Linked DNA regions of Homo sapiens. The protein of the gene in region 2 purifies or fractionates together with the protein of the main gene of each other region. This does not show direct contact. Each region holds a gene or a part of one and is shown on either strand. Other genes may lie near its edges.

The links.
Region 1: the proteins of ARL15 (region 2) and IREB2 purify together in Homo sapiens (co-immunoprecipitation; 3 studies listed by BioGRID and IntAct, with this or other methods). This does not show direct contact.
Region 3: the proteins of ARL15 (region 2) and CNNM1 purify together in Homo sapiens (co-immunoprecipitation; 3 studies listed by BioGRID and IntAct, with this or other methods). This does not show direct contact.

The regions. Positions count from the first base shown.
Region 1 is NC_000015.10:78,490,216-78,497,255, reverse strand, and holds part of IREB2 (iron-responsive element-binding protein 2), read right to left. Parts: intron 6,835-7,040; coding exon 6,730-6,834; intron 6,638-6,729; coding exon 6,495-6,637; intron 3,348-6,494; coding exon 3,200-3,347; intron 3,115-3,199; coding exon 2,992-3,114; intron 131-2,991; coding exon 1-130. UniProt on the Homo sapiens protein: RNA-binding protein that binds to iron-responsive elements (IRES), which are stem-loop structures found in the 5'-UTR of ferritin, and delta aminolevulinic acid synthase mRNAs, and in the 3'-UTR of transferrin receptor mRNA.
Region 2 is NC_000005.10:54,111,545-54,118,584, forward strand, and holds part of ARL15 (ADP-ribosylation factor-like protein 15), read right to left. Parts: intron 1,867-7,040; coding exon 1,658-1,866; coding exon of another isoform or gene 1,571-1,657; exon of another isoform or gene 1-1,570.
Region 3 is NC_000010.11:99,360,356-99,367,395, reverse strand, and holds part of CNNM1 (metal transporter CNNM1), read right to left. Parts: intron 6,562-7,040; coding exon 6,421-6,561; intron 5,170-6,420; coding exon 5,000-5,169; intron 2,980-4,999; coding exon 2,880-2,979; intron 2,442-2,879; coding exon 2,394-2,441; intron 1-2,393. UniProt on the Homo sapiens protein: Probable metal transporter.

The DNA.
Region 1 (7,040 bases), on a different chromosome or scaffold from region 2:
TTTCTCTACCGGAGAGGCCCAAGGAATCTGCATTTTCTCCTGGAAGGAACTGAAGTGGAGCTATGCCAATTCCAATCAAATGATCTTTGTGTATTTTTTCATAACTTTCGGCCAAAACAGCTTTCACACCCTGTAATAAATGTGCATTTTATTCCCTCTAATCACTTCTGAAAGTTATTTATTGAGCATTTAAAGGGGGCAAAAATCTACTTTGGCCTTTCTCTAAATACTTTTAGTCTAATATCTCATACTGAATCAATATTTTATCAAAGTATTTACAGAACCTTCTTACAGATTATTTTTCTGAATTTTTATGGAGCTCTCTAAATTATTCGGATCCCTTTCTGCTGCTCTAGGGTTAAGTACTGCCGCTGCCTACCACATCATAAGAGCTCTATAAATGGGCCGGCTCCCTTGACCCCAAAGTAGGGCTCAGAAGGATTTCTATTTAAACATGCCAGATCTAACATATGTTTTCAACACTCTTGAAATGCCACTAAAATAAAGGAATAAAGAAGGTATATAGGGCCAGGCGCAGTGGCTTATATGCTTATAATCCCAGTACTTTGGAGGCTGAGGCAGAAGGATTATTTGAGGCCGGGAGTTTGAGACCAGCCTGGGCAATATAGTGAGACCCTGTCTCTACAAAACATAAAAATAAAAAATACAATAAAAAGTAACAAGAATAGGCTGGATGCAGTGGCTCACACCTGTAATGCCAGCACTATGGGAGGCCGAGGTGGGCAGATCACTTGAAGCCAGGAGTTTGAGACCAGCCTGGCCAACATGGTGAAACTCCATCTCTATCTAAAAACAGAAAAATTAGCTGGACATGGTGGTGCACACCTGTAATCTCAGCTACTATGGAGGCTGAGGCAGGAGAGTCACTTGAGGTTGTAAGTGGAGGTTGCAGGGAGCTGAGATCATGCCACTGCATTCCAGCCTGGACGACAGAGTGAGACCCTGTCTCCAAAAAATACAAATAAGTAACAACAATAATGAAGAGGGTATAAGCCCACAGCAACAAAGGGAATAGGATGAGAGAATTCTATGAATATTTAGAAAACAGAGATAGGTAAGTGATTTAGAAGACAATGCTGAAACCGCAGAATGATAAAATGAAATTAGAGAGTGATACCAGTAAGGTCTGAGTTAATGTGCAACACAAGACCCAGGAAAAGGATTGAGATTCAGAGGCATGAGGTTCTCAGAATACTCGTGGACACAGGTTACAAGGCCATACAAAGCAGTAAGATCCAGCTCAATCCCCACTCCACAAGAGTAGAGGTTTATTCTCTGGAAAAAATGAGCCAAAGGCTCTAGACTTGTGTTTTTCAACTTTTTTCTCCACTGTCTACCTAAGGAGTCTTTTAAGACTTTTTTCCCCCAAATTGTGTCTTCCTGTTCACCTCCCTTCTCTCCAAAATTTTAGTACCACAAAGATGCTGTGTATCTTTTAATGTACTCTTATCTGTACTTTATGTGCAAAAAGTAGAATTTTTTTTACCACCTGAGGACCAATTTTTGTTCTTTTTTACTCATTTTTTACAAATTTTTACTCATTTTTTGTTATAGCAGAAATAAGGAAGAGAATACATTCTCTAAACTGACAAACACTGGGCACAGGGGCTTGAGAATACCAGATTGAAAACAGGGGACTAAGTAGATGTCTACATACTGAACGAGTCTCTTTCCTTCAAGAAACTGAATGGCCTCAGAGAAAATACAGATAATGACATATAGAATCGCTTAATGAAAAAGGTAGCTTATCACCCAGTCACCTATAGTAAGGCCCAGTAACTGACACAACCCAGCCCCCATCCATGGCTTGTAATCAGTTTTTTAATGTCTAACAAATGGAGGGCCAAGCATCACCTGCCATATAAGGAAAGCTTCCAACATCAAAAACAAACACTAAAACAATTTCCAGGATAAAAATAACCTATACCTATCATTAATACTCATAATAATACTTATAATTAGTATCTTAGAAGGATGAGATTTTGTTTTATTCCCACAGCCCCTCAGAGTATTTACATTTTAAAGGAGATATTAAAGATTAAAATAAGAATGAGGCCTGCATGGTATCTGTGTTTCAGCCAGCCTTTTTACAGCTACAATTGTAAAGAGAAGCATCTGTGAGTATGAAATGGCAAAAAGCACATGTCACATGACTATTCCCCCCCAGCAGATGGCCTATTTGCTCTGCAACAAGGAAACAGTCTCAGGAGAAATGTCCTCCTGGCAGACAGCCAGGCACCACAATCTCCTATTTAGGGGGAAAAAAGGTGCAACTTGGCCTACTACTTCTGAGTCTTTTACCCACTGATGGGGCAAATCGGAGAAAATTAAATCAAAAGGAGGCAAGTAAAATTAACAGTGGGGGCCGGGCACATGGCTCAAGCCTGTAATCCCAGCACCCTGGGAGGCCACAGCGGGAGGATCACTTGAGCCCAGGAGTTCAAGATCAGCCTGAGCAAAATAGAGAGATCCGATCTCTACAAACAATACAAAAATTGGCCAGGTGTGGTAACTCATGGCGTAGTCCCAGCTACTTGGGAGGCTGAGGCAGGAGAACTGATTGCACCTGGGAGGTCATGGCTGCAGCAAGCAGTGATTGCGCCACTGCACTCCAGTCTGGGTGACAAGGACATGGTCTCAAAACTAAAAAACCAAAAAAAATGATCAATAGGTATAAATAATTATAAAACAATAGTTTAAAACAGAATTTCCTTTCCCTCTATTATACTGACTTCTTCACATAAGACTGATGTAGGTTTTACCAAACTCAGAGTATTAAAATGATACTAACTAGATGAGTACAAAATATTACCAAAGATCACTGAAATAAACAAACAAACAAAACCCTCTATACCTATAAGGTTCAAATAACTATAAAAAATCCAGATAAACTTTGACAGGATGTTACTGACAAAAGGGAACAGTTAAAACTCTTTGAAGCTTAAGATGATAAATTTTAAGATTCAATACCAGTAAATACGGTCCTTTGGCAGCCCAGTCTCTGGAGTTTCCTGAACCATATTTCTTTCCTGCTAAAATAATCAGTGGGATACCTTCTTTCTGGTACAGCTCTGCAGCCTCAAATACATCTAGCTGTAGATTAAAACAAACACAAAATTTTTTAATACAAATTTTGATCCAGTTATAAATTGTCTAAATACTTTGTTTGCATTCTCACCGTCTGTCCTGATGGAAAATGAATTGTTTTAGGAGCTGGTTTTCCAATAAACTTATTAAAAAGCTTGATATTTGCAAAAGTGCCTCTTGTCATTACAGCATCATTACCTCTTCGAGCTCCGTAAGAGTTGAATTCACGAGGGGTAAGGCTACAAGAAAGTAATGAAAGTCAGTTTTCATTACATGTGGAAAATAATCACATACTATTGAGCTGTAAGACCTATTGAAAAATTTTTTTATCACAGAAAATTTCAAACACAAAAGAAAACAAAACCATGAATGTCCATGCGCCTATCACCAAGCTATAACTTAACAGATGCTCCGTTTCTTCTACAGTCAACCCCATTAGATTATTTTGAAGCAAAACTGAGATAATTTTAACAGCATACTTTTCAGTACATTTCACTAAAAGATGTAGACTCTTAAAAAAAAATCTTTACACCAAAAAAAAAAAATCACAATAATTTCTTAACATCAGATAGTCAATATTGTCACTGATTATTTCCAAACTAAGTTGGTTTGTTCAAATCAGGATCCAAATGCAGTTCATAAATGTGTTCAGTTGATCTCAAGTGTTTTAATCTACAGTTGACCTTTAAACATGAATTTGAGTTGTGTGGGTCCACTTATACATCGATTTTTTTTCAACCAAACACTGACAGAAAATATATTATTCACAGGATGCAGAAAACTGCAAATACGACTTTTCATATATGTGGCTTCTGCAAGGCTGACTGTAGGAATTCAGTATGTGTGGATTTGGGTATACATGGGTGGTCCTGGAACCAGTCCCACATCTATACTGAAGAATGACAGTATATGTTCCCTCTCCTTCCTCCTGCTTGTGCTCTATCTGATGCAATAAAGTTACTTGTATAGTTTTCTGTACCCACATTGTGTTGACTGCATCTCCATGAATCATTTAACATGTTCTTCTGCCTTCTGTTCTTGTAAATCACATGTCAGATCCAGTGGTTTGATAAGATTTGGGTTTTTAATTTTTGGCAACAATGCTTCATAGGTCATATGTACTTCTATTAGGAGGCACAAGATAGCCAACTGTCTTTTCCTGGAATGTTACCAGTGATTGCTCATTGTGGTCTAGATTGCTTATTAGAGACCGTAAAATAGTGATACTATAATTCACCCATTCCTTCTTCATTTTTTAGGTACAAAAGTTCTATAAAGAAAAACTTTCCAGCAGGTATGTTGGCTCTTGCCTGCAATACCAGCACTCTGGGAGGCCAAAGTGGGAGGAATGCTCGAGCCCATGTGTTGGAGACCAGCCTGTGCAACAAAGGGAGATCTCATCTCTACAAAAAATTAAAAATTATCCAGGCATGACGGTGCGAGCCTGTAGTCCCAAGCTACTCAGGAGGGTGAGACAGGAGGAGTGCTTGAGCCCACGAGTTCCAAGCAGCAGAGGGCCAAGTGCCACTGCCTTTCAGCCCAGGCAAGAGTGAGACCCTGTCTCTAAAAACAAACAAACAAACAAATGACAAACTTTCCTTCATCAATGATTTGGTTATGCTGAAATACATTCCATACATGAAAGGCTGGTTAAAGAATTGATTATTTACCAGTTTTCAAGCTAATGAGCTGGTCCTGACCCTGAGACCTTTAGACAGAAGCCTGATGGTCTGTGACCATCAGGTAATCTTTGTAATTTTATTTTTGGTAATCTTGGTAATTTTTGGTAAAATTGTGTACATTTTCCAGTCCCAGATCTGGAATCAATAATTTCTCCATGAAGCACTGGTTCACTATAGTGGGAAACAGTATTTAGAAATCATAATCTGGGTGCGGGGGGTATTGCTACTGGATTAGTGACCATATATAACTTTTTAGGGAAAAATAACTGAACATAAGTATCTCAACAATCAACAACTGACTTTTATCAGCCTCTGATTTGGTCTTTTATGCAGAGGCAACAATATTCTAAATTTGTGCATTTAAATTTTTACTTCAGGATGGGAGTGGTAGGAGGTTTGAGTGTCTTTATTTTTAGAAAATTCTAATTGATGAGCACTACTGGATTAAATGTGCTAAGAAATACATATCAGGAGGCATAATAATTACAAAAATTGTACATTTGAGAGAAGTGTTGACTGTTTTTCTTTTTTGGAGGTATGTCACAATTATGATGAAGATGGAAATCACAACCAAAAAAATATTTACAGGAAAGGAAACTTATTTCTCACCACTTTATAATAAAAGCTGTGCAATATTATCACATGTCAACACAAGCTACATTGACATTTTGGCTGGGCACGGTTGCTCATGCCTGTAATCCCAGCAATTTGGGGGGCCGAGGTGGGCGGATCACTTGGTCAGGAGTTTGATACCAGCCTGACCAACATGGTGAAACCCTGTCTCTACTAAAAATATAAAAACTTGCTGGGCATGGTGGCGCGTGCCTGTAATCCCAGCTAGTTGGGAGGCTGAGGTAGGAGAATTGCTTGAACCCGGGATGCAGAGGTGGCAGTGAGCTGAGATCACACCACTGCACTCCAGCCTGGGTGACAGAGTGAGTCTGTCTCAAAAATAAATACATAAATAAATACATACATAAATAAATAAATTTCAATGAAAAAGCTTGTCATTTTAATTACTCAAGCATCAAACAAGCATCCAATAAGCTAATCAGGTAGCAGTACTACAAATCCTGCTTTTAACAAAACTTTGTCTCTATTGTCAAAACAGTCCTTTGATAACAGGGCAACTCTACATGATTAATCATGTAGAAATGAAATCTTACCAGTTTTAAATTTATATCTCCAATATAAATGGCCTTTACGTTTATTGTTCCTATAAAATTTTAGGCTCATGAAGCAGAAATTCATTGTCTTTTGATTTGTACATATCATTCCCAGCCTCACACACGTACATGTTATAGCCCATAAAATACACATTTAAATTCCTTACTCCAATAATGGGAAGCTGGTTTTAACCAAATGAGCAGGCTTCATTTGGTAGGTAAAACCAAGCTGACTTTTCAATAAAGTAGCACTGAAAAAGAAAAATCTTATTTCCAATCAGCTGTTTATTTAGACTATAAGGGCTCAATTTAAAATTGCAATTTCATTTTCTAAAGTCACAAGCAAAGACAAGTACAGAAGGTACCCCCCGCCTCCCCACCCCGCCACTCTCCATTCTTGCTTAAGACAAACACATTGGCAGTCAGATTACCTACGATAGCATGTATTTACTGGAAAAAAGGAACAAGACCAATAGAAGCCTCTTAATCAGTAAGAAACAAGAAAAAACAAAAACACTCTAAAGCCATGTACACATACCCTCTGTTTGTCAAATACTTAGCGGCAGCACTATTCCTAGCGATACTTCCTGCAGGTGATATATGATCTGTTGTGACAGAGTCTCCCAAATATAATAAGACATGGGCATTTTCAATAGCCTGGAGTGCAATTGGCTCTTTGGTCTAGAAGGTAAAAGTTCAAGGCATTTAACTCTTTACAAGACTTCTTAGTTTATAACAATCTTTAAAAGATCAAATAGTAAAACAGTACTTACAAGTTTATCAAAAAATGAAGGGCATCTGATATAAGTAGACTTTAAGTCCCATGGAAACAAAACTGAATCCGGTGCTTCTAAGGAATTCCACCGTTTATTCCCCATCTGTGAATACAGTTTTCGTTGATGAACCAAAGCAAAGATAAAAGGACTCAGAAAAAGAGGCGCATGAAAATGATCAAGGGAATAAAATAGTACTTAGGTCACAACAACAACAACAAAAATAGGCCTTATCCATTTGGAAAGAAAATTAAGAGTGTATTCTTTTCTTTTTTTTAAAAAATTTTAAATTTTTATTTTTGCCCAGGCTG
Region 2 (7,040 bases):
TCTAAGGAAAACAGATACACAGGTTCATAACTTTAAAAGCAGAAAGAAAAAATCTTTTTTCAGATATTGCAAATAACTTGAATAAAGTTATCTGAAGTTAAAATGGCACTTATATCTATGTTTTATCAATGTGTATATGTATTATGTATATATTACATACACACATTATACTGTCTACATGTAGTAGTGTACACATACATATTACAAGATTTTTTAGAATGAATAGCTGAATAACAATGCATTCTCAGCAAACGACCTTATAATCATAAACTACCCTTCATTACATACTATTATATCTACTCTATAGGCAGAAAAACTGATGCTGAGAAGTTAAAAGATTTACAAACTAAGGTCTTAAAAGCACATTAGGAGACACCATCATTATAATGCTGAAGATCTTCACATTAATGACTTTCTGAATAGATTTTTATTGCTGTTTTTTACTTAATTACTTAATATTATCTATAAGGTATTTTTCAAACTCTATTCTTTAAAAGGTGCTACGTACTTAATGCTGAATGAGGCAACTAAAGTGAGACATGAGCTCTGTCTGTTGAATAATGGGTCCTTGCCTTTCTTTTTTTTAAACTGTGTTTCTAAAATTTGAATAAAAACTCTATTTATATGGTTCTTCTACTTAGGTGTTTAAACTTCAAAGTAAATTATCCAAATTAATCCTATTAACTTATCATAATAAATTGGATTATTCTCATTTTAGAGGTGAGAAGCCAGGCACAAGAATAGGCTATCTGCCGTGGGTCACACACTAAGTGTGAGGGAGGTCTGGAGTTAGAACATGTTATGTCCTTGGCTCCTCATTTATTTTTCAGGCTGAAAGGCAAGATTGTTCATATTAATCATCTCATTCCAAAATCACTTGAGGAAGCATGCAATTTTCTGAAGGAGAGGGGAAATCATATCCTGAAAGTTACAAGTATAAAGGAATACATCAGGAGTTTTGATTTCACTGTACTTACGTTATAATTCACTATAATTTAAGTTTTAAAAACTATTCACATATCTCATTACTGCAGTACCATGAATCACAAGCTCTATTGGCTGAGACTCTATTTGCCTAGAATTAGTCTCATGCTTTTATAGGAGAGATACAAGCTAAGAAATAAAATTAAATGAGGAAGATAAACATTGGTTCCATGTTAAAATGTATTTGATGGCATGGAATTTGCAAGACATCAATTTTCAGCCTAGCAGATTACAGAATAGGATCCATTAATCCTAGTCAACATTGAACACTTCAGAGGAACAAGAACATGACACCTGAAGGCGAGTAATGCATGGAAATACTCACGATATGTTCCTAGAAAAGCTGAAGAAGAGAATGAACTAAGTCCACAGGTTAAAACAACATTAAATAACCAGGCCTTTAGCCCCTCAAAATAGATGAAAAATATAACCAGAAACATCTTTTAACCATTGCTAAATAGCTAGAAAACTCTGTGCTCTCCAAGTAGGGTTAGGTATGTAAACAAGTGCTAACAGATTGATATAGGCTTTCTGCTTCCTATGAAAACTAAGGTTTCATGTTGAAAGCAGCATAACCAGCACATTCCTAATTACATGCATTTTTCCAGGTTCCAACGTGGCAGCAAAAGTACAAGCAAGGAAGACAAAGAGTTGTCATGCTAATGAGACATACCTCTTGTACTGAGCGAGCTGCTGGCTTGTCTTGATGATTGGCCAATATTAAAAAGGGTAAAGTGCATAACTGTGGATGCTGAAGAGCTGAGTGCAGCTCATTTCTAGCAGCTTCTAAATCATCCTCTGAAGAGGCACTGTCTAATACAAATATTACCCCTTGAGATCCTTGGTAGTAGCGGCTCCAGTATTTCCGGATGTTATCAGCCCCTGTCAAAAACAAAACAAATTTTCGTTTTAAAAAGAGCTTTCAGCAACTGAAAAATGTTCCCAACAGTAATTCCTACTGGAAACCAATGTACCTTTTAAAAATTAAGTGCTAAACTCTGTGGTATGGATTAAAACAGGAATTTAGAAAAGGCAGAAATCACAGTGGATGGGAACAAAGAAGGCAGTAGAGCCAATAGGTAGATTTGGCCTTGAAGGAAGACACAAAATCCAAGCCATTCTTAATGACTTTTATATAAAAATGTGTGTGAGAGAACCAGGATAAATACTTCCTAGACTTAAACTCAAAAGGATATTTTCAGACTTTAATCATCTCAAATGAACTACACACTCTCTAAAAATTGAGACTGAACCTGCCTCAGAGAGCTGCATGGCCTAGACATCCACCAACGCTTCTTTCCAAACCATTAACATTAGCTTGGTGATACTTTTTTAACAGAACTGCTTGCTGATCAGGACAGCCTTGTTTAATTTCACCTAGGGAGTTATTAGCACAATAGCTTTATGTGTCAAAGTGCTAAAGTTTGTGAAAAACTAAAATCATGGCCTTTGATACAATTACATGATTCTGTTTGGCTTCATAACCCATGAGGAAAAATAACAGACAACAGGTGTACACTTATGATCTCAATGAGATAAGATGTTTATTAAAACAAACAAATAAACAAACAAACAAACATATGGAGAGGCTGGGCGCGGTGGTTCACACCTGTAATCTCAGTACTTTTGGAGGCCAAGGCAGGTGAATCACCTGAGGTCAGGAGTTCAAGACCAGCCTGGCCAACATGGTGAAACCCCATCTCTACTAAAAATACAAAAATTAGCCGGGCGTGGCGGCGGGTGCCTGTAATCCCAGCTACTTGGGAAGCTAAGGCTGAGGCAGGAGGATCGCTTGAACCCGGGAGGTGGAGGTTGCAGTGAGCCAAGATCGCGCCACTGCACTCCAGCCTGGGCAACACAGCAAGGCTCCATCTCAAGAAAAAAAAAAAAAAAAGCAACACCACATGGAGAGTCTCATCAGCCAAGGCATGTCATGTAGTATTCCTCTTTGTATTTCCATTATATAGCACAACATCTAACTCAAAGTTCAGTACTGGAATAATGAAAATTGAGGGAATGAGGGAGTAAAATTATATACTAATTAAGCTTTACAAATTTGAGACTAGAACAAACTCTAGAGATGATTTAGTCCAACTCTCTGAGGAAACTGAGGCAGACAGAGGTAAAGTAAGTGATCCCTTGTCATGTATCTAATAAATCACAAAATTGGGATTTGCATGAGTTAGCAGACAACCTGCCCAGGGAAGGCATAGGCACTTCCCATTACATCATGGTGACTGTTTTCATCACTTTCATTCAAGAATAGGAGGGGCAATATGTGTGCATGTGTAGGAAAGGGGTGCTACTGGTTATATAACGACAATTAGATTTCAAGGAATTTCACCAATTTATTGCATATGATCAAGTCCTAACCAGTTAATAACTGTATTTCAGTCATCCACTGAACATCTAGCTCCTATGTTTGACATATTGTTATGTGTTAGGGAAACAGTGGGGACTGCAGTTGGTGTGCCCTGGCTGGCAAGGGTCACCTGTTTGCTTCTCTTCCCAACTCTGTGCTCAGTGACATCCTGTTGGTAGCTTGAAATCAATCAGGGTGAAAGCACTGTCACTATGGAAATCAGCAAATCCTACATATCGAGTCCTTTCATCTCCCAGAGAGCCAACACACCACTGATGACACTGAGCAGCTTATATTTTCTGGGAGAAATAGAAAAGAAAACTCAAAGATTATAATAGAGTACAAGAAAGTGCTGTCATAGAGATACTCATTAGGTCCTCTGGGATCAAGAGATAGGCATTTCATCCAAAGTGGGGCAATTCTTTTTTAATTTCATTTTTTAAATTTGAGATGGGTTCTCGCTATGTTGCCTAGGCTGGACTCAAGACTCAAGTGATTCTCCTGCATCAGCCTCTTGGGTAGCTGGGACTAAAGGCACATACCATGGTGCTTGGGGCGGTGGGGGTAAATTTCTTGAAAGAATAATATCAGTAGCCAAACAGCTCCCATTTATTAAACACTTCCTATCCTCCAGGTACTAAGTGTTTTAAAAAGAAAAGCTCATACAATTCTTACAACAATCTAAGGAGGGAAGTATAATTGACTAAGCCTTTGAAACTAATTTTCAGGTCCTAAAATCTGTGATTTCACCATTATACTATACAAAAATAACTAGGTATATATTTAATAAGAGGATCAAGGACATTTGATGTTGAGTAATGTTAAGTATGTGAAGACATGGGATATGAGCAGGGTTGATGCATATCAAGCAGGGTCCAACTAAGAAAACAAAACAAAAATAAAGAGGAAATTTAAGCCAGAGATTATTTAATATAGGGAATTCATTACTTAGGTGGTGGTGGAACTAAGGAAACAGCAGGGGTACTGAGATAAGCAACATCTTAGGTCCGGTTCCCTAGACACAGAGCCTGAGACATCATTTCTTGTACACCCGATTTAGAGGGAGTGCTGTCAGGAGAAACTAGAAGTGAAAGAAGTAAGCTAGAATGGGGGAAGAAGCTAGGCAAAGATATTGTTTCAGAAATCTAGCCTCAGCTTGATGCGATAAGGAACTCTAAAGCATGGATTGAACCACAGAAGTTGTCTAGTCCAAAGGCAAGGGAGCTGAGCTATTACACCCTTGTATAGTCATTAGCCATCCCTGGGGAGCAGGAGGGGGTTGGGGCATGATCTCATAATCTCCCAAACATATTTGGTTGGGGCAATTACTGTCAGCCAAGGGCAGGCCTCTGGAGAAGAGTACAGGTGTGAGTCATTAGCAGCCAATACCCACAGCAGCTGGGAGATGGATGCACTGGCCCAGGAAAGGAGATCTGGGTAGGATACCAACAGCATCTGCTACAGGCTACATCCAGACACTATCCATATGCTTGAGAACCATCCATAAGCTGGAGGGACAAAACTGGAGGCAGTGTTACTCGGTGGTAAGTGTTTAAAACAACAAAAATAGTGTGCATGTGTATCTGTACACTAGCTTGTTATAAATTTCACTAACATGAAGGATGTGCAGTGCACAGTTTTCATTGTAAGACTCAATGCAGCATGCTTTATTGTAAATTCCACATAGCCAACTAATGCCCACAGAATGCTTTCATTGAGTTTCTATCCACAGCCAACTAATGGCTGCAATTGACAAACTAGTGTAGTTCTGACATGAATGGTGGCTGCTCAAAGTGTTTTACGTATATTAAATCACTTACCCATGACAGTCTAATGACTATCATGAGGTAAATACTGTTATCAATCTCATTTTATCAACAAGGAAACCAAAACACAAAACGATTATGTAACTTGCCCAAGGTTACACACCTAATAAATATATTTAGGTCTAATGTGATTGAAATAGAGATCATGGACTAAAAAGGCAATGAGGCTAAATAAAGAACTATATTACCACATAAGCTAGGAGAAAAGAAATGGAACCCTATTGGAACAAAAGGTAAGTTAATGCCCACATACATTAATGGAAATATGTCCAAAAACATTTCCCAACTGGTTAATTCAATGGATAGTTATTAAGTACCTATTCCATCCATACAAGTCTCTGAGCTAGGACCTAAAGAGATATTTAGAAAGCCATTATTCCTCTTAACTGAAACCATCAAATCCTGTAAAGTAATACAAATTACAATGAGGCCTGCAAATATAGCAGGCAGAGCAAATACATCCACACATTAGATGGTGTCCAGTGAGTCAGGTATAAAGAGAATTTGGTTGCATGTTTTACTAGAGCTTGTCCCTTGGAAACACACAGGACACCTGGAAATTCAACTTGTGCAGTCAACTCTTTCAATGAGAAACTATGTTTTCATTGGCCACATTTAGGAGTACATATGGTACCTGCAAATAGTGAGACACATACACACACACACACACACACACACACACACACACACAAACCCAAAGAGAAATACCATAACTTTAAAAAATGTCCCTTATATGACATAATGTATGAATAATATATTAATAGTGAAAAGATCCTTTTCTTTAATCTCCTGCTACAGTTTCACCCAAGAATTCCCTTAATACGGCAGTAAAAGTTATTATTTTATTAACTTAGCTCTTAAACACACTTTTAAAATATTCTATGTGACTAAATGGGAAGTAAGCAAAATACATTTTTGCTACATACCAAAGTAGACAGTTGATTTGACAATAAGCACTTGTACAACTGTTTGAGTTGTAAGCTACTTCACACAACTCCATTTTTACTTGAAATTTCAACTGACAAACTATGATTATTCAGATTTGACTGTTTGATAGACATTTTCTCAAAAATAGATGTGCAAGCTTGTCATTTCAAGGAAAACAAATGATAGTATTTGTTGTCAATGGTAAAATTTGTTTTCAAGCAAAAGCTAGAATTTTAGAAAACTTATTTCTGCTAAGTTTTAAGTGAGCCTGACAGCTTTTCAGTGATGAGATTGGTGGTGATATTAATAGACAGATATTCATAAAGTAATCTGTAAACATTTGGAAGCTCTACACTACTCAGTGAACCAATATTTTCCAAATGACGAATGCATGATGTTACAAAACCATGCATAGATAAAAAAATACATTCAAAGTACAAGAAAGACCAATGCAAGTTAATTAACTGAGTACAAAAAGTTCCCTGATAAGTTTTCCAGATTCCACACTACAACTGATTAAGAAACAACCACCTGTTGAAGAATTTCAGTATAGTATCAAAGAAGACAATCAACAGTTACTTAAAAAGGTTATTAAATCATGCCTCCCTTTTTGAGTTATCTATGTGAGACTAGACTTTCTTCATATACTTCAACCCAAACAACATATTAACAACAGATTAACTGTAGAAGCAGATATGAGCATCCGGCCCTCTTCTATTAAACCAGATTAAAAAGATTTGCCAATTTTCTCACTATTTTTTTGTTTTCAAAATTGTTGATTTTCATTAAAAATGTTATTTATATTAACATGTTATGAGCTTATTATTCTTTTATAAAAATTTTTAACATGGCTTTAATTTCTGACATGGCACATATGGATACTCATTGTCTTTAATGTGAGAAAAAGACATTTAAGATCTACTGAAATTTAGGCATAAATT
Region 3 (7,040 bases), on a different chromosome or scaffold from region 2:
ATGCAGGAAAGCCAGAGACTTCTTTGTAGCCTCAAGTTCAACTTTGAAGCATAGGTCATCGTGCCAGTATTCCAGCAAACTCATAATCTCACTCCTCATCCTCAAAGGCTGATTAAGCTAGCTTCAAGCATAGGGGGACGGGGCTGGGCCAAGACCCTACAAGATTTTATTGCCTTTTAGCTTAGACTTAAGCTCTCCCTCAACCTATAGGTTGAGGTTCTTGGCCAGTGAAAGATGCTGGGTGGCTGGACCATGGGCTGAGCATTCACCCGGGATAACTGTGGGGTATGGCTGGCCTTTGCAGTTACTTCACACTTCACTACACTAAGTATGGGTTCGGGGAGGATGGAAAATGTCTTTTTACCCCATTGGCTAATAATATTTCTTTTTCCTTCTGAAGATTTACAGAGATGCTCAGTAACATGGGGAGAGAAAGAGAAAGAGTGCTATGTTTCTTTTCAGTTAACTAGTTTTAAAGGAGAAATCAATGTTGCAACTTTATTTCTATCTCACTGATGCAACTGAAAGCTTTTGAAAGAAAGAACTAGAAACAGGAAGGAAGGAAAGGAAGAAATCAGATAACATCTTCCTTCTACTTAAAACAATTTTTTTTTTGAGATGGAATCTTGCTCTGTAGCCAGGCTGGAGTACGGTGGCATGATCTTGGCTCACTGCAACCTCCACCTCCCAAGTTCAAGTGATTCACCTGCCTCAGCCTCCCTAGTAGCTGGGATCAAAGGCACGTGCTACCATGCCTGGCTAATTTTTGTATTTTTAGTAGAGACAAGGTTTCACCATGTTGGCCAGGATGGTCTCGATCTCCTGACCATGTGATCCACCCGTCCTGGCCTCCCAAAGTGCTGGGATTACAGGTGAGAGCCACCATGCCCGGCCACAGCAATTTCTTTTTTTTTTTTTTTAAGAAAGAAGGTCATATAAATTGGGTGGGCTAGGAAGCCATATGTAGGTCTTTTTTTCTCAGAATTTCCACCTCTTTTAGTCTTCTGGAAGAGATCACAGACATTTCTAGGTAACATATTAGAATCCCAGGAGTAGTCCCTAATGTGATGGATGATGGAGATTTCCTTTAGAGAACTAAGGTTTGCCAAAGTCCTGTAGCCCGTCCCTCACCCATCCAGAGTTCTACTGAACACTAATGCTTCCTTCATCAACCTTGATTGAGATTCATTGTCTTAAGTATAATAATGTACCAGGGTCTTTTCAATTTTACAGATCTCCTCCAACTCAAGTTCTGCCACTCTTCACACTGGGCAGGTACTTCATTTCAACCACTGGCTGGGCTATTACACTGTAACAATTACACTGTAAATTGTTCCACTATTTCCACTTAGAAATTGCATTCCAGAATATGATGGATCTGAAATCTGTATTTTATTGTGCTGTGTGAACTAGCCAGGACACCAGGAAGCATCTTGGCCGGTCACCAACTTACTGGGTGATTTGAAGCAAGTCATTTCCTTAGTTTCACTCATGTTAAAATGGTATCTACCTTGCCATGTTCCAGGGACTATGATATCAAGCTCTGGGACCCTCTGATAATTCCCACCACAAGGCAATATGTAAAATCTTTTTTTATGATGAGAGGAAAGACCCTATTTGGCATTGAAGTGGTCACTGTAAACACTAACAGCTGAAAGCAATGCAAAATTCAGAACTGTGAATCAGAAAGAAATCTAGAGAAATAATTCTTTCTGTATCACACTTTTAATCACAAAAAATGCCATGCCCTTTAAGCACAAGTGCAATAACTACACAGAAAACAGCAAGAAGGCACAGCACAGAAAGGGCAGAGCAAACCAGCCATCAGCCCTGTGCCTGCCCCCCACCAACAGCATGCACAGCCAGCTGGCAGATACCTCTCCACTAGCTGAGAGGTGGAGAACCAAGAAAGAGAGGCAGATAAGCAACGTATTGCACAAAGGTGGAACTTACATCCCCAAATCTTGCAGTCACTTCTTACTGAGGACAAACCCCACAGACACAATAATAGCATATGACAGTGTTTGAGTAAAGGCCATGGGTGAATTGTTATTGCACAGAAGGAAGGGCTGAGCCTCTGCCCAAGCACACAAATCACCTGCCTGCATTCACTGGAAGGTGGCAATAAGCAGTGCCTTCCCTCACAACCCCTGCATCCCCCCAACCATGTGAGCAGAGAAGCAGCAGAAAACATTCCAGACACACAGAACCTAAGCTCCCATGGTCTGTGGGTACCTGGCAGGAAGCAGTGTTCCTGGCAGAACATTACAAAGGGGCTGCCAGCATTTGTCTTAGCCCCAGCCCAGGCTCAAAGTGCTCGGTCCAGGTCCCCAGAGCGGGCTGAGGCAGGACTACGATGGGGAGGACGAGGAAGGGGTTTGAGAGATACATACGAAAGACAGAAGATCCAGCCAGACTTCCAACCTTCCGCACGTCATTATCTAAGGACAGAAGCATGCAGTGGGTTTCAGAGGCAACTCAGAAAACACACTTCTTATGGGAATCTTCCCTCTTCTATCCACCCCCAGCACCAATTAACCCTGTAAAAACCAGGCAATTAAATGGAAGGGTAGGGAACAAGTATAAAAAGCAAAATAAACTTGTCTTTTCATACTGAAATCTACCACCCTAGATCCCTAACACTTGACAATATTACTGCTTTTTACAATTCAATTTTTTGTCACTTTTTTTTTAAGCACTAACTGAATGAAAAGTGATTCATACACCCATTTTGCAGAGGAAGGAACTAAAGCCAAGGAAGTTAAATGGCTTGTCCAGGCTGATTAACAAGAGTCAAAGGGGGAGTCAAGACTTGAACCCCTGTGCTTTTTCTACCATATCCCATTACTTTCCCAATAAACAAATGGAAACTAGAATACCTGAGCAAGCAGTGGTCATGATGGCTGGGACGCCATAGTAAGTAAAGGCTCCATTTTCAAAGCGAAGGCCTTCCTTACCAACCTCCACCTCCACTTTACCCTGGAAAAAAAAAAAAGGAAGTGTACTATGAATGTGTATGAGCACTTCCAGTTCTACTATTGACTCGAATCCTAAGCATTTCTGCTTGGATAACAAGTGGACTAGACCCATGTTCTTATCACAGAGGAATGTTAATTCTCTCCAGATTTACATGTGAGAAAGCACCACCAGCTTTAATAGCTCTTTGCAGTAAATTCAGTGCTTCGTTGTTCATAAAATAGCATCCAGTCATGAATAACCAAGCTGTCCTTGCATACTGTAGTGGCCCTTCCATGATGCAGGCCTAAGCACCAGCTAATCCAGGGCCTCATAAACTGCCCCACTGGTTTAGTCCAAGATTGGACCATTTCTAAGTCAGGTCAAGATAAAATCTAGGCCGAGTGCGGTGGCTCACACCTGTAATCCCAGCACTTTGGGAGGCCAAGGTGGGTGGATCACGAAGTCAGGAGTTTGAGACTAGCCTGGCCAATATGGTGAAACCCCATCTCTACTAAACATACAAAAATTAGCTGGGTGTGGTGGTGCATGCCTGTAGTCCTAGCTACTCAGGAGACTGAGGCAGGAGAATCACTTGAACCAGGGAGGCAGAGGTTGCAGTGAGCTGAGATCGGGCCACTGCACTCCAGCCTGGGTGACAGAGCGAGACTCTGTCTCAAAAAAAAAAAAAAAAAAAAAAGATAAAATCTAATTCTGTGTGAAGCTTGTTTAATTCATTGCCAATAATAGTGATAGCTGATATGTAATGCATAGCATGCATGGACATGACACTGTATTATGTGCACTGCATAGATTCTCATGCAATTAGCCCCACAACCCCATGAAGCCTATGCCATTTTTATCCCTGATTTACAGGGAACTCAATTTTGAGGCTCAGAGATTGAATAACTTGGTCCAGGTTAGTTAGGAAATGGCAACAATGGAATTTTAAAGCCATATTTTTCAAATTTCTGAGCGTACACTCTTGCTACTACATTTTATTCCATGTTTTATTTGAAAACCGTTAAGTTTATATTCAGCATAAGACATGAAACTATGTGATCATTACATTATACAAACAATGTAACAGGATTCTTGTTGATTTCCAACAGTGAAGCACATGACTACATTTTTTGGAGAAGAGAGGTCATTTTGTTCAGACCATTTGGAAAGATATATGTGAGGCAAGTTACAGTGACAGAGCAGAGAGGCTGGAAGTGGACAGTAACAAAGAGACCATTTCTAAGTTCATGTGAGCTTAATCAAGATTTTAAAATACAATCAGTGTATTTAGGATTCACAACATTATGTTGGGAAGGGACAGGGAATCAGTGACAGAGCTAATGGTGAAGCCAGACAGGGCACCAGCAGTGTTACAAGCTGCAATCATGTCAGACACTTATTTAAGACAGGCCTATTCAGGTATCCAGAGCAGAAGGTGATCATACTTATGTGAGCACTGGGGAGATGTTGCACTTCTTTGAACAGGTCATTTTCCCCCTTCCTGGTCCTCTGAAGGGGGAGAAGATTTCAGGAACTGCAAAGGCTGAAATGCAGCTGAGAGAATGAATGTGTCCCATGTACCTCCAGAGAGCAGAGCAAGGACCAGTATGGAAGTCACAGATGGTGAGATTTCCACTTGACAGAGAGAAGGGTTTAAAGAAGAGTTGTCTAAAGTTTAGGAGGCAGTGGGCAGTTTCATTTCAGGGGATGTTCAAGCAGAGATGAGGAGGTATTATAGCTTCCGCAGAGCAGCAGTTCTGGAAGTTTAGATGCAGAACCCCTCTATTGGAGAGGTATTCAACCCACCCCAAACATCGCTGAGTTGTCAAACTAAATGTCAAAGATCCCAGCACTCCCAGGACACCAGTCTTCCATGTCTAGGCCCCTCCTGTGGGTCATGAAGAAATGTCCACCCAGCTGGCCTTGTTGCTGAGGCAGCCAGCCAAGTCTTGGAACTTGGTGCTGACGGAGGCATGGCCATTTCTTCACCCTGGAGATGCCCTCCTCTGGCTCTCAGAGGTTCCCTGACTTTCCTACTCACCTGTAGAAGCAGCACAAAGTAGTCCACAGGGCGGTTGCGCTGGTAGAGGTAGTGTTCCGGGGCCTTCTTGTTCTTCTCATCAAACTTCAGCTCCTGGATCACGTTGGGATGTTTCAGGAGCCGGAGCAGGATCTTCTCCGAAAGGTACAGAGACTTAAAGGGCTCCACTTCTAGAGGAGAGTGAGTGGGAAGGGAGGAATCAGCATCAGCTGTGTCCCACCCATTCCAGCAGTGGCAGCTGGGAGGAGTCAGAGTGGGCACAACTGGGACCCCTGTGCCTGTACCTGGGCATCAGGTTGGCAGGGCTTCTGCAGTTCCTCCGGAGTGGAGGATCCTAATCCCAAGTGTGCATCTCAGGGCCTTACCCACGTCCTCTGGAGATGTGTGTCCCTGCACTGGCATCTCAGGAGAAACAGGTCTCCATTTGGAAATGTCTGTTTCATTATTAATTTTCTTTGATTTTATTTAAAATTGGACATGGACAACTAAGCCACATAAACAACAAAGACTTTAATGCTATAATTGAATGAAATGCAGATAATTTAATCTGGCTTATTTGTATGACATATATCTGCTGAATGAAATGAAATCCCATGTTACTAAAGACAGGCAATTATTTAAATAATAAGTTGTCAATAATGTGAGGCATCATTGCATCATATTTATATATTACAGCTATTGCTTATATTACATATGTTAAACTTATATTACTTATATAACATAGGCTCTGGGAAGTAGTTAAAAGAAATCTGTACTCAGAACTAGAAATTCTATCTTAAAGCAGCTCCAACTTAAAATTTTCTACTCTTTAGCACCTAAAACAGTGCTAGCACTCATTACATACTCAATAAATATATGTTGGATTAATTAAATATTGAAGTTAGTGATAGATATGATCATTCTAGGTCAGCACATTAATTAGGCATGGATGGTCAGAGGGTTCAAAGACAAACTTTATCTTCTTCACAAGAAGGAGTTTATCTTTGGATTTTCTCACTTTTTTTTCTTTCTAAAGATCCCAAGATTCACAATACACTTCTGTATTTTAAAAATTCATAGCTCACAGGCTTCTGTGGCACTGCTCTAGGGCACTGCAAGTCTAACAGACAGGGAGATGGCCTCGGGCTTCAGCGAGGAAGTGAGTAGAAGAGGGAAAAGTGCAGCAATGGTTTCTTTAGCTCTTTTCTCTGGTAGAAGAGTTGAGTTATACTCATTTCTTCCTCTATGAGATCAGGCCTGGGGCTCAATACGACAGTAGGTGGCATCCATTACCCTGTCTAAGGCAACCTCCTTCCTAGAACAGTGCTTCTCAGTCCTGACAGCACACTGGAATCAGGCTGGAAGGTATTAACAACGATTGGTGCCTGGGTCCCACCCTAGAGATTCTGTTTTAGCTTCTCTGGAGTGGAGACTTGTCCTACCTGTGGCCATGAAGCGGTGTGTGGCTAGCAGAAGCTGTGGTGAGATCTTCACCCGCATCTCCGTGTCCGAAAGCTTAAACAAGGAGAAGTCATGCCGCTTCCGCTCCCGTTGCGGGACCCTCTGCTTTTTCCGATTGTCAGCTGTGGGGTCACAGAGGACAGATTACAGCTATCTCAGAATCACGTTGATCTTTGGAGGTTTTCCCAGAATCACAGGGGACAGATAGAACATTTCTGCAGTGTCAACTATGGGTGACATCACAATATCACCCAGGAAGTAGAAGGATGTTGGTGAGGGATAGACAATGGGAGACTGCCATCATTTCAGTGTTTTCCACACTTAGGGGGTGTATAGTAGAAAAAGGGGAAAGCAGGCTTGGGGTACCCAAGTCTGGGGTTCTGGGGCTGGTTCCCCTACTTACCATGTAATCTCTCTAAGCATTAGAGTTTTTATTTTAATCTGTACAAGGAGGCTAATAATATTTAATATAGCTCTCATACTCATCTTGTGCAATTAATTATGAGACTCCAACTGGAAACTACCTGTGAGAATGCTTTTACCCAAAGTCATACACACACAAGGGACCTGCATTCTTAGTATCAAGAGGGTTGCAGGGGCC